Regions from separate parts of the Homo sapiens genome. Here region 2 is linked to region 1. Evidence: fine-mapped expression QTL. A gene starts in region 1. The other region holds a variant in brackets. All regions are shown on one strand. Distances are from middle to middle. Region 1 holds the start of NPSR1-AS1 (NPSR1 antisense RNA 1). Region 2 has its middle 29 kb from the start of MIR548N.

The links. PIP is the estimated chance that this variant, and not a neighbour inherited with it, causes the effect.
Region 2: its variant is the best candidate, but not a certain one, in a credible set for the expression of NPSR1-AS1 in fetal neocortex (Walker 2019, PIP 0.77).

What each region holds. Positions count from the first base shown.
Region 1 is chr7:34,755,390-34,760,389 of GRCh38, forward strand. It overlaps NPSR1-AS1 (NPSR1 antisense RNA 1), which reads right to left and starts at 2,883. Exons shown (of 4, transcript NR_033665.1): 1 at 2,685-2,883. The region is part of intron 2 of NPSR1 (neuropeptide S receptor 1); the gene reads left to right.
Region 2 is chr7:34,908,646-34,914,191 of GRCh38, forward strand. No RefSeq gene overlaps it. Among named protein-coding and RNA genes, the nearest start is that of MIR548N, 29 kb to the right of the region's middle. The variant T/C (reference allele first, on the strand shown) is at 3,039.

The DNA.
Region 1 (5,000 bases):
TTACATAAATAGAACCTTACAGTATGTGTGCTTTTGTTTCTGACTTCTTTTGCTCAGCATTAGATTCAGGAGATTCATCAACATTGCTGCGTATAGTTGCAGACAGTTTACTATCCTTATTGAATGGTGTTCTACTGTGTGAACATACTACAGTTGCTTTTTTCATTCCACTAGTGGTGGGCATTTGGGTCATTTCCAGTTTAGGGCTACTATGAATACTGCTGCCTTGAACAGTCCAGGATACATCATTTTGTGAGCTGCTTATTTTTATTATTTGTGCTACCTGAATTTTGTATTATGTGCAGGTATTACTTTTTTTAAATGTCCTAAAAACACCTTTAAGGGCTTTTAAACTAGGATCAGAAACTTAGCTCCTTCCCTACTGACAAGCAGGCAGAAAAAAAAAATAATAGTAATAGCTAGTATTTACTGAATGCTCATTGAGCCACCTCTTTAGGGAAAAAAATCTTTTCATATATGTTTGCTTTTAATCCTCCAAATTACTCAAAGCCATAGGTATTCTCATTATGCCCATGTTAGACCTGCAGAAACTGAGACCGAAGGAGGTTAAATAACTTGTGCAAAACCATACAACTAGCAAGTAGGGAATCACAGTACAAATACAGGTCTCTGAATATAAAGCCTGTGCATTCACCCTCCAATTACACAGCCTCTGATTACACTCAGCTGGGAGTTCAGGGAGCCTGCTAGACATGGGGAGGAGAAGCTGAAATGAGAGCACCTGAAACTGCCAGCTCAGTCCAGCTCAACAGCTCGGATTGTTCTCCCCACCGCCCCCCTACTTCCTGTCCTAATTAATCAAATGCTCTTGAACATGAAAGAGAGTGAGATTGGATTTTTGTTAAGATGAAAGAAAGGAATCTGTTCCCATCTGGCACCTTCAAAACTCTCCTATTCAAGCCAGCAGGGAGCATTTATGCAACCTACATGGCAGTTTAATAATTCCCCAAGAATGCCAGGAGATTAAGCAATGTCACAACCGATCTGGATCCACCGGCACTTGAGAATAATGGAAAGAGCAGGGGTCTAAGGTCTAGGACAGGGGTCAACCAAATTTCTCTGTAAAGGCCCAGATATTAAATATTTTAGGCTTTGCAGGTCCTATGATCTCTGTGTCAACTACCCAACTCTGGCATTGTAACATGAAAGCAGCCATGAGCAAACAGGCATGGCTGTGTAACTAAAACTTCTTTTATGGCACAGATATTTGAATTTCATATAATTTTCATGTGCCTGGGCATATATTTCTTTTTTAAAAAATATTTTCTAACCAGTAAAATATGTAAAAGTTATTCTTAGTTTGAAAGCTGCACAAAAATGGAGGACAAAGTCTAGCGACCTGAATTCAAATCCTCTCTCTGCCATTTGTTATTTCTGTGGCTTTCGACATATTACTTACATTCACTAAGCTTCATTTCTCTCTTGAGAAAATGAGCAGAGCAGGTGCCATGCATTCAGGGCCTCCCTTGTGGCTGGCACTGAGCCACATGCTTTATATGCTTTACTGAATTAAATCCTACAATAACCACAAAAGGCTGAAATTATATGATTGCCTTCTTCAGATAGTTACGATGATTAAGAAATTATGTCTATAATTGTGCCTGAGCTGGCCTCCATAGTTCATTGAGTTTGATGCTTCCTGTTGTACGCAAAAATTGCCATGTTGGTTCGATGAGAGCATGCCTGCTTTTTCTACTACCTGTGGTGTTTTGAGTACCTATATTTGTATTGCACTTACAGTGAAAATTATCTAATTATATTATTCTATTTAATTACAATTGCATCAAGCTCCAATAAACAATCCAAATTTCACTGAACTGAAAGTTGAGTGCACACTTTGAATAGTCACTCCTTCTGTTAGGTTGGTGCAAAAGTAATTGCCATTACTTTTAGTAGCAAAAACAGCAATTACTTTCGCACCAACCTAATATATATGTGCACAGTAGGCAGTTTGGCTCAGGTACACTTATTCAAAACATTGCATTAAGTAAGATAATACATGTTAAATACCTAGCACACAGCCTGGGATGCAGGTGTCGGCCAGTGTTTGTTCCCCACTTCCTTAGTGACAAAGATTAGGCTTAGCTACTTTTTGGGAAAGGTGAGTGCCACCAGAAAGATGAGGCCAAGGCCTTATCAGACACACTGGAACACAGCCTTCCCAAGGAATAAATCCAGAATATTTTGTGTATGAGTTCTGGCTCTGAAGCCCAGCCTGTTCTTACACTGACCCCCCAGTTTCTGCCTTGATCAGCCACCCACTAGGCTGGGCATTGCTTCCTCTCACTCTGCTATCTAGTGACCCAACCTCGGCCCAACCCTCCAGCTTTCTTCTGGCCATGCGACTGTTCTGCTAGTCTGCTCCGCATATCTGCTCCTACCTTCCGATGCCTCCTCTGAGCTTTGGCTCCACTCCCCACTCAGCACAAACAACTTACTTTGCCCCAGTATGGGGTACAACAGCTCAGACTCTTCTAGAGGTCTAATCCTGGACACCTCGTTTGCTTTATAAGCACAATCTGGAAAGAAGAGTTTCATTGCTCAGAGCCCCTCAGGAAGCAGAAGAGGAGAGTGGTGAAGAGAGCATTCATCCTCTGGAATGACCATAACTGGTGTTTCAATCCCAGCTCCCCTCCATACTAATACTTGGGTGAGTTACTCACCAGGTCTATGCTTCAGTTTCTTCATCTGTAAAATGGAGGTTGTAAAAATATCATCTACCCCATAGGGTTATGGTGATGATTAAATTAGTTCTTCTATAGAAAGTGCCTGCAGCAGTGGTTAGCATGTGGTAGGCACTTTGTATGTGTTATCTGTTATGTCTGTTTGCTCTTACTAACATCTATATTTCTGAGTCCTAGACCTCCCCAGAGAGTGTGAAGTTCATGGTGTTTCATGGGAACAGATGTAAGCCCACTTGCTGAATCTCTCTCTGAGCTAATAATTAACAAATACATTGCACAGTAGCTTACCAGGAAAGCCTATACTGGTCTGAACAAGAAGAAACTTGCTGAACAATTCTAAAGCTCACTTCTCAATATAACAGCAGCCCTTGCTCAACATGTTGCCCATATCTTCAGTACCGTGCAGAGGTCACAGCCATCATATTCTGCCAGCTCTTCCCCTATGGGTTGAGCAACCATATGTGTCTTCCCAACCAGGACATTTTTCATTTTTAGCTTCTTGTTTTGACATAATTTCAGGTTTACAGAAAATCTTCAAGAGTAGTACAAATACCCCCATGTACCCTGTACACATATTCCTGAAATGTTAATATTTTTCATATTTGCTTTATCATTTCCTCTATCAGTCTATCTATAATACCTACCTATCTACCTATCCATCCATCTAAAAATGTCCCAGGTAATCAGCAAACCTGCTTTAAATGTCACCAATTATCCCAAGAACATCCTTTTTAGCACAAAAAACCCCGAATCATGTATTGTATTCAGTTGCCATGTACGTTTAGTGTTCTTTAACTTAGAACAGTTCCTTGGTCTTTCTTTGTATCTTATGACATCAACATTTTTAAATAGCATAGGTTAGATATTTTGTGGAGTTTCTCTCACTTTGGGTTTGTGTGATGTTTCCTTCTGAATAGATTAAGGTTATGTGCTTTTGAGAGTTATACACCAGGAATGATGCTATGTTCCTCTTAGTATATAGTATCAGCAGACACAGTATATCAATTTGTCCCATTACTAGTGATGTTATTGTCAGATTTCTCCACTGTAAAGATACTATTTTTCCTTTTGCAACTGACAAGTATTTTAAGAGTACATAGCCATCCTGATACTCCTTAAACTTTCACTCACAGCACTTACCATACAGTGTAGATTCCTGTCTGAATCAATGCTATAAAGGTTTCCAAATGATGATTTTCTAATTTCATTATTTCTTCTATACTTATTAGCAGTCTCTCTACTTTAAGGAAGAAATTTCCCTTCTCTCCCATTTTTAAATTTACATCATAGGTTCTTCTTTTATTCTGTGGGTTATAATTTGTTGCCATAGTTATTTCTTTTTATGCCTAGATTGCTGACTGGGGTCAGCAAGAGCCCTACAATTTGGTGCGTGTTTCTGTTGACATGTTTCTCAGCATTTTTGGGCATGTCCTCACTTGCCAGCACAACATGATGTTCCAGGCTTATCTTGTCCTTTTCCCAGCCCCAGGCCAGGAATCAGCCATCTCCAATGAGCCAAGTAAAACCATGGCATATTTAAGAGAAAGGGCCACAGGCATAATCATGGCGGGTATAAACTGAAACTGACCTAGAAATGCTGGGTCATATTCCCAATCTACCACTAGATGTCCTTCCACACCTCAATAGTTCTTCACAGGAAGCAGTCCTGGGGCATTTGGAAATGGTGGGATATTTGGAGTTATCACAAAGACTGGGGCAGCAGGGGTTACTTCTGGCATTTAGTAAGCACAGCCCAGGCATGCCAAATTTCCTGCACAGGACCATCTATCCTAACACAGAATTGCCCCATAAGTAGCAATCCTGTTAATAAATAGTGGCCCAATCCCTGAACTAATCTATCTTGTGTTCTAGTCTCTCAAGGATTGGCTTAGTTCTTTTCACCTTATCCGCCATCAGTTAATTTAATCACCACTGTTTCCATAGTGAGAATCTAATATATTAGACTGATCAAGTGTGTTAATCAAATATATTGGATTAGCTGGCATGCATTATAGCAAATAAAATAGCCAGTCTTCATTTTAGATCTAGTTTAAAGAAAGCCTCTACTTCTTATGTGTCAATTTTTGCAGAAAACATTATTCTAGCAAGTTGGCAAGGAGTCTAGGACTTATGTTAAGACACACCATCTCATCCCCAGTTCTTGCAGCTCTCTGTCTAGTTATTGGCCCTATTCATTGCATCAGCACCAACAACAGCTACCCAGGTTTTATAGGGCAAGCATTTTACTAAACATTTTACATAAACTATCTCATTTAACCTTCACAGTAGCCCTAT
Region 2 (5,546 bases), 150 kb after region 1:
TAATAATGGGAGACTTTAACACCCCACTGTCAACATTAGACAGATCAACAAGACAGAAAGTCAAAAAGGATACCCAGGAATTGAACTCAGCTCTGCACCAAGTGGACCTAATAGGCATCTACAGAACTCTCCACCCCAAATCAACAGAATATACATTTTCTTCAGCACCACACCACACCTATTCCAAAATTGACCACATACTTGGAAGTAAAGCTCTCCTCAGCAAATGTAAAAGAACAGAAATTATAACAAACTATCTCTCAGACCACAGTGCAATCAAACTAGAACTCAGGATTAAGAATCTCACTCAAAACCGCTCAACTACATGGAAACTGAACAACCTGCTCCTGAATGACTACTGGGTACATAATGAAATGAAGGCAGAAACAAAGATGTTCTTTGAAACCAAGAGAACAAAGACACAACATACCAGAATCTCTGGGACGCATTCAAAGCAGTGTGTAGAGGGAAATTTATAGCACTAAATGCCCACAAGAGAAAGCAGGAAAGATCCAAAATTGACACCCTAACATCACAATTAAAAGAACTAGAAAAGAAAGAGCAAACACATTCAAAAGCTAGCAGAGGCAAGAAATAACTAAAATCAGAGCAGAACTAAAGGAGATAGAGACACAAAAAACCCTTCAAAAAATTAATGAATCCAGGAGCTGGTTTTTCAAAAGGATCAACAAAATTGATAGACCACTAGCAAGACTAATGAAGAAAAAAAGAGAGAAGAATCAAATAGATGCAATAAAAAATGATAAAGGGGATATCACCACCGATCCCACAGAAATACAAACTACCATCAGAGAATACTACAAACACCTCTACACAAACAAACTAGAAAATCTAGAAGAAATGGATAAATTCCTTGACACATACACTCTCCCAAGACTAAACCAGGAAGAAGTTGAATCTCTGAATAGACCAATAACAGGCTCTGAAATTGTGGCAATAATCAATAGCTTACCAACCAAAAAGAATCCAGGACCAGATGGATTCACAGCCGAATTCTACCAGAGGTACAAGGAGGAACTGGTACCATTCCTTCTGAAACTATTCCAATCAACAGAAAAAGAGGGAATCCTCCCTAACTCATTTTATGAGGCCAGCATCATTCTGATACCAAAGCCGGGCAGAGACACAACCAAAAAAGAGAATTTTAGACCAATATCCTTGATGAACATTGATGCAAAAATCCTCAATACAATACTGGCAAACCGAATCCAGCAGCACATCAAAAAGCTTATCCACCATGATCAAGTGGGCTTCATCCCTGGGATGCAAGGCTGGGTCAATATACACAAATCAATAAATATAATCCAGCATATAAACAGAGCCAAAGACAAAAACCACATGATTATCTCAATAGATGCAGAAAAGGCCTTTGACAAAATTCAACAACCCTTCATGCTAAAAACTCTCAATAAATTAGGTATTGATGGGACATATTTCAAAATAATAAGAGCTATCAATGACAAACCCACAGCCAATATCATACTGAATGGGCAAAAACTGGAAGCATTCCCTTTGAAAACTGGCACAAGACAGGGATGCCCTCTCTCACCACTCCTATTCAACATAGTGTTGGAAGTTCTGGCCAGGGCAATTAGGCAGGAGAAGGAAATAAAGAGTATTCAATTAGGAAAAGAGGAAGTCAAATTGTCCCTGTTTGCAGATGACATGACTGTATATCTAGAAAACCCCATTGTCTCAGCCCAAAATCTCCTTAAGCTGATAAGCAACTTCAGCAAAGTCTCAGGATACAAAATCAATGTGCAAAAATCACAAGCATTCCTAGACAAACAGAGAGCCAAATCATGAGTGAACTCCCATTCACGATTGCTTCAAAGAGAATAAAATACCTAGGAATCCAACTTACAAGGGATGTGAAGGACCTCTTCAAGAAGAACTACAAACCACTGCTCAAGGAAATAAAAGAGGATACAAAGAAATGGAAGAACATTCCATGCTCATGGGTAGGAAGAATCAATATCATGAAAATGGCCATACTGCCCAAGGTAATTTACAGATTCAATGCCATCCCCATCAAGCTACCAATGCCTTTCTTCACAGAATTGGAAAAAACTACTTTAAAGTTCATATGGAACCAAAAAAGAGCCCGCATCGCCAAGTCAATCCTAAGCCAAAAGAACAAAGCTGGAGGCATCACACTACCTGACTTCAAACTATACTACAAGGCTACAGTAACCAAAACAGCATGGTACTGGTACCAAAACAGAGATATAGATCAATGGAACAGAACAGAGCCCTCAGAAATAACGCCGCATATCTACAGCTATCTGATCTTTGAGGAACCTGAGAAAAACAAGCAATGGGGAAAGGATTCCCTATTTAATAAATGGTGCTGGGAAAACTGGCTAGCCATATGTAGAAAGCTGAAACTGGATCCCTTCCTTACACCTTATACAAAAATTAATTCAAGATGGATTAAAGACTTAAATGTTAGACCTAAAACCATAAAAACCCTAGAAGAAAACCTAGGCATTACCATTCAGGACATAGGCATGGGCAAGGACTTCATGTCTAAAACACCAAAAGCAATGGCAACAAAAGCCAAAATTGACAAATGGGATCTAATTAAACTAAAGAGCTTCTGCACAGCAAAAGAAACTACCATCAGAGTGAACAGGCAACCTACAAAATGGGAGACAATTTTTGCAACCTACTCATCTGACAAAGGGCTAATATCCAGAATCTACAATGAACTCAAACAAATTTACAAGAAAAAAACAAACAACCCCATCAAAAAGTGGGCAAAGGACATGGACAGACACTTCTCAAAAGAAGACATTTATGCAGCCAAAAAACACATGAAAAAATGCTCACCATCACTGGCCATCAGAGAAATGCAAATCAAAACCACAATGAGATACCATCTCACACCAGTTAGAATGGCAATCATTAAAAAGTCAGCAAACAACAGGTGCTGGAGAGGATGTGGAGAAATAGGAACACTTTTACACTGTTGGTGGGACTGTAAACTAGTTCAACCATTGTGGAAGTCAGTGTGG[T/C]GATTCCTCAGGGATCTAGAACTAGAAATACCGTTTGACCCAGCCATCCCATTACTGGGTATATACCCAAAGGACTATAAATCATGCTGCTATAAAGACACATGCACTCATATGTTTATTGCGGCATTATTCACAATAGCAAAGACTTGGAACCAACCCAAATGTCCAACAATGATAGACTGGATTAAGAAAATGTGGCACATATACACCATGGAATACTATGCAGCCATAAAAAATGATGAGTTCATGTCCTTTGTAGGGACATGGATGAAATTGGAAATCATCATTCTCAGTAAACTATCACAAGAACAAAAAACCAAACACCGCATATTCTCACTCATAGGTGGGAATTGAACAATGAGATCACATGGACACAGGAAGGGGAACATCACACTCTGGGGACTGTTGTGGGGTGGGGGGACGGGGGAGGGATAGCATTGGGAGATATACCTAATGCTAGATGATGAGTTAGTGGGTGCAGCACACCAGCATGGCACATGTATACGTATGTAACTAACCTGCACATTGTGCACATGTACCCTAAAACTTAAAGTATAATAATTAAAAAATAAATAAATAAATAAAAAGATTCTTCTGAAATATATCATGATAAAATGCAAATTGTAGTGAAGCTTGGACACAATAGAATACAGCAACAATGACTGGATCTGAATGATGTGCATCTTATTGAGCAGTGCACAGGGCAGAGCAGACACTAGCAAGTAATTAGAGGCATAAGACTTTCACAAGCGCACATATGCCAGAATTAATGGAAAAATCTGCTCATTTTTACTGGGTGCATAAATGACAGGATTTGTTGTTCAACTCCACCTATAAGCATGTAAAATAAAGAGCGCTCACAGTCTTTATTAAGGTCTTCTTTCTTTTAATTCAAATAAATCAAGTTATTTATTAATTCAGACATACACTGAAATGTTATTGGGGTCTTCTTTGAGTAGTGAGATTTTCTCAATTGTCCAAAATTTTAATAATAAGCGTGTATTACTTTAAAAATTAGAAAAACATTAAAGATTTAAGAAATGATTCTTGAGAATCAATTTATAATGCATTGTTTGAAGCCCTATAGTTGACATTTTTCAAATCCTTTTAATAACATTTTGATCCTTAGAACTATAAATTTTTAGAGTAGGTGGAAATCTTGCCAGATCATCTGATATAGCTCCCTGTTGTTTCACAGGTAAATTTTTGACTAGCCAGGGTCCCTCCCCCACTGCATGAGATTCTAATGAGATTGTCAATCATGGAGATAGGTGGGGAGTCAGGGAATTCAGAGAGGCTAGAGAACAAAATCCAAATTAAACTAAACTCACAGAGTAATTGAAATATTTATTTCTCTGGAAACTAATTAATCCAGAAGTGTTCACATGACTCAAACAGGGATAATCAGACTATTTCTGTAGAGAAGAGGATTGTTCTCTTTATCTTGGCTCACAGGTCAACAGAACATGTGTGTTTGGAACTGTCATTCAAACTTTGAGTGATAGATCTGCTTGGCCCAACTCCTTGGACTTCCCAGAAGTTGTATTAAGCCAAAAAGTTGTCTATGTGTGTGTGTGTGTGTGTGTGTGTGTGTGTGTGCGTGTTTGCTGAAGGTTTGCATTCATTTTCTGTCACATACATCAGAAGGAATTCTTAATAAACAATCACCCATAACTAATGCCATCTGTCCCCTTTGTTAAGATCTCCAAACATGAGGACCCTACAATATTCCTGGGTCTCTCAATTCAATGATTTTTGTTTTTATAATAAGTGGTAGCAAAAACAAAATTACATTTAACTTAAACTTTCTGCTAAAATATAAAGTTAAGAACTTCTGTTTCCACCAGATATAGAGTAACAGGAACTGTATATATGTTCTTACTGAAATAACCAAGAAAAACAGACAAAATATATGAAATAAATGTTTTCAAGTTACTAGATATTAGACAACAAATAGAGTGATTCCTGAGATGACTAGCTAATGAGGTGAGCCCTGTCATTGTCCATAATACCTTTTTCAGAGAGTTCACAGGCTATAGCATCAGGAGAAAAAGCCTAGATAGAACTTGACAGATTCCTTGAAGTCAAGAAACATAGCTGAGAGTCTAGAAAGATGAAGAGAGGTAGAGTTTGCAAGACAGAGTACCAAAAAGGTGAGAACTGCACAGAGAGTGATCTGTGGAGGTTCCTTTTCAAGTATTCAGCAAAGCACTGATTAGCATATATTTTTAAGGAAATGACCTGAGGCTGAGGGAAAATCACCTGGAAGGATCAGAGAACAGTGTCCAGGGCAAACACAGGATAGTGAATAGTGCCTGTTCTAACCAGCCAGACTGGAAAAAAACATAAATTGTGGTAGACTGGTGGAGTACTCAGGAAAGTCATACCTCAGTGGTAGGGAATACATAGCCCTAGACTGAGAACTGCTCTGGACCCACATAAACAATGACAAAATCAAGACCCAAAAGGATCAAACTGTTTCAGAGCAACTTGACTGCATCCCAGAAT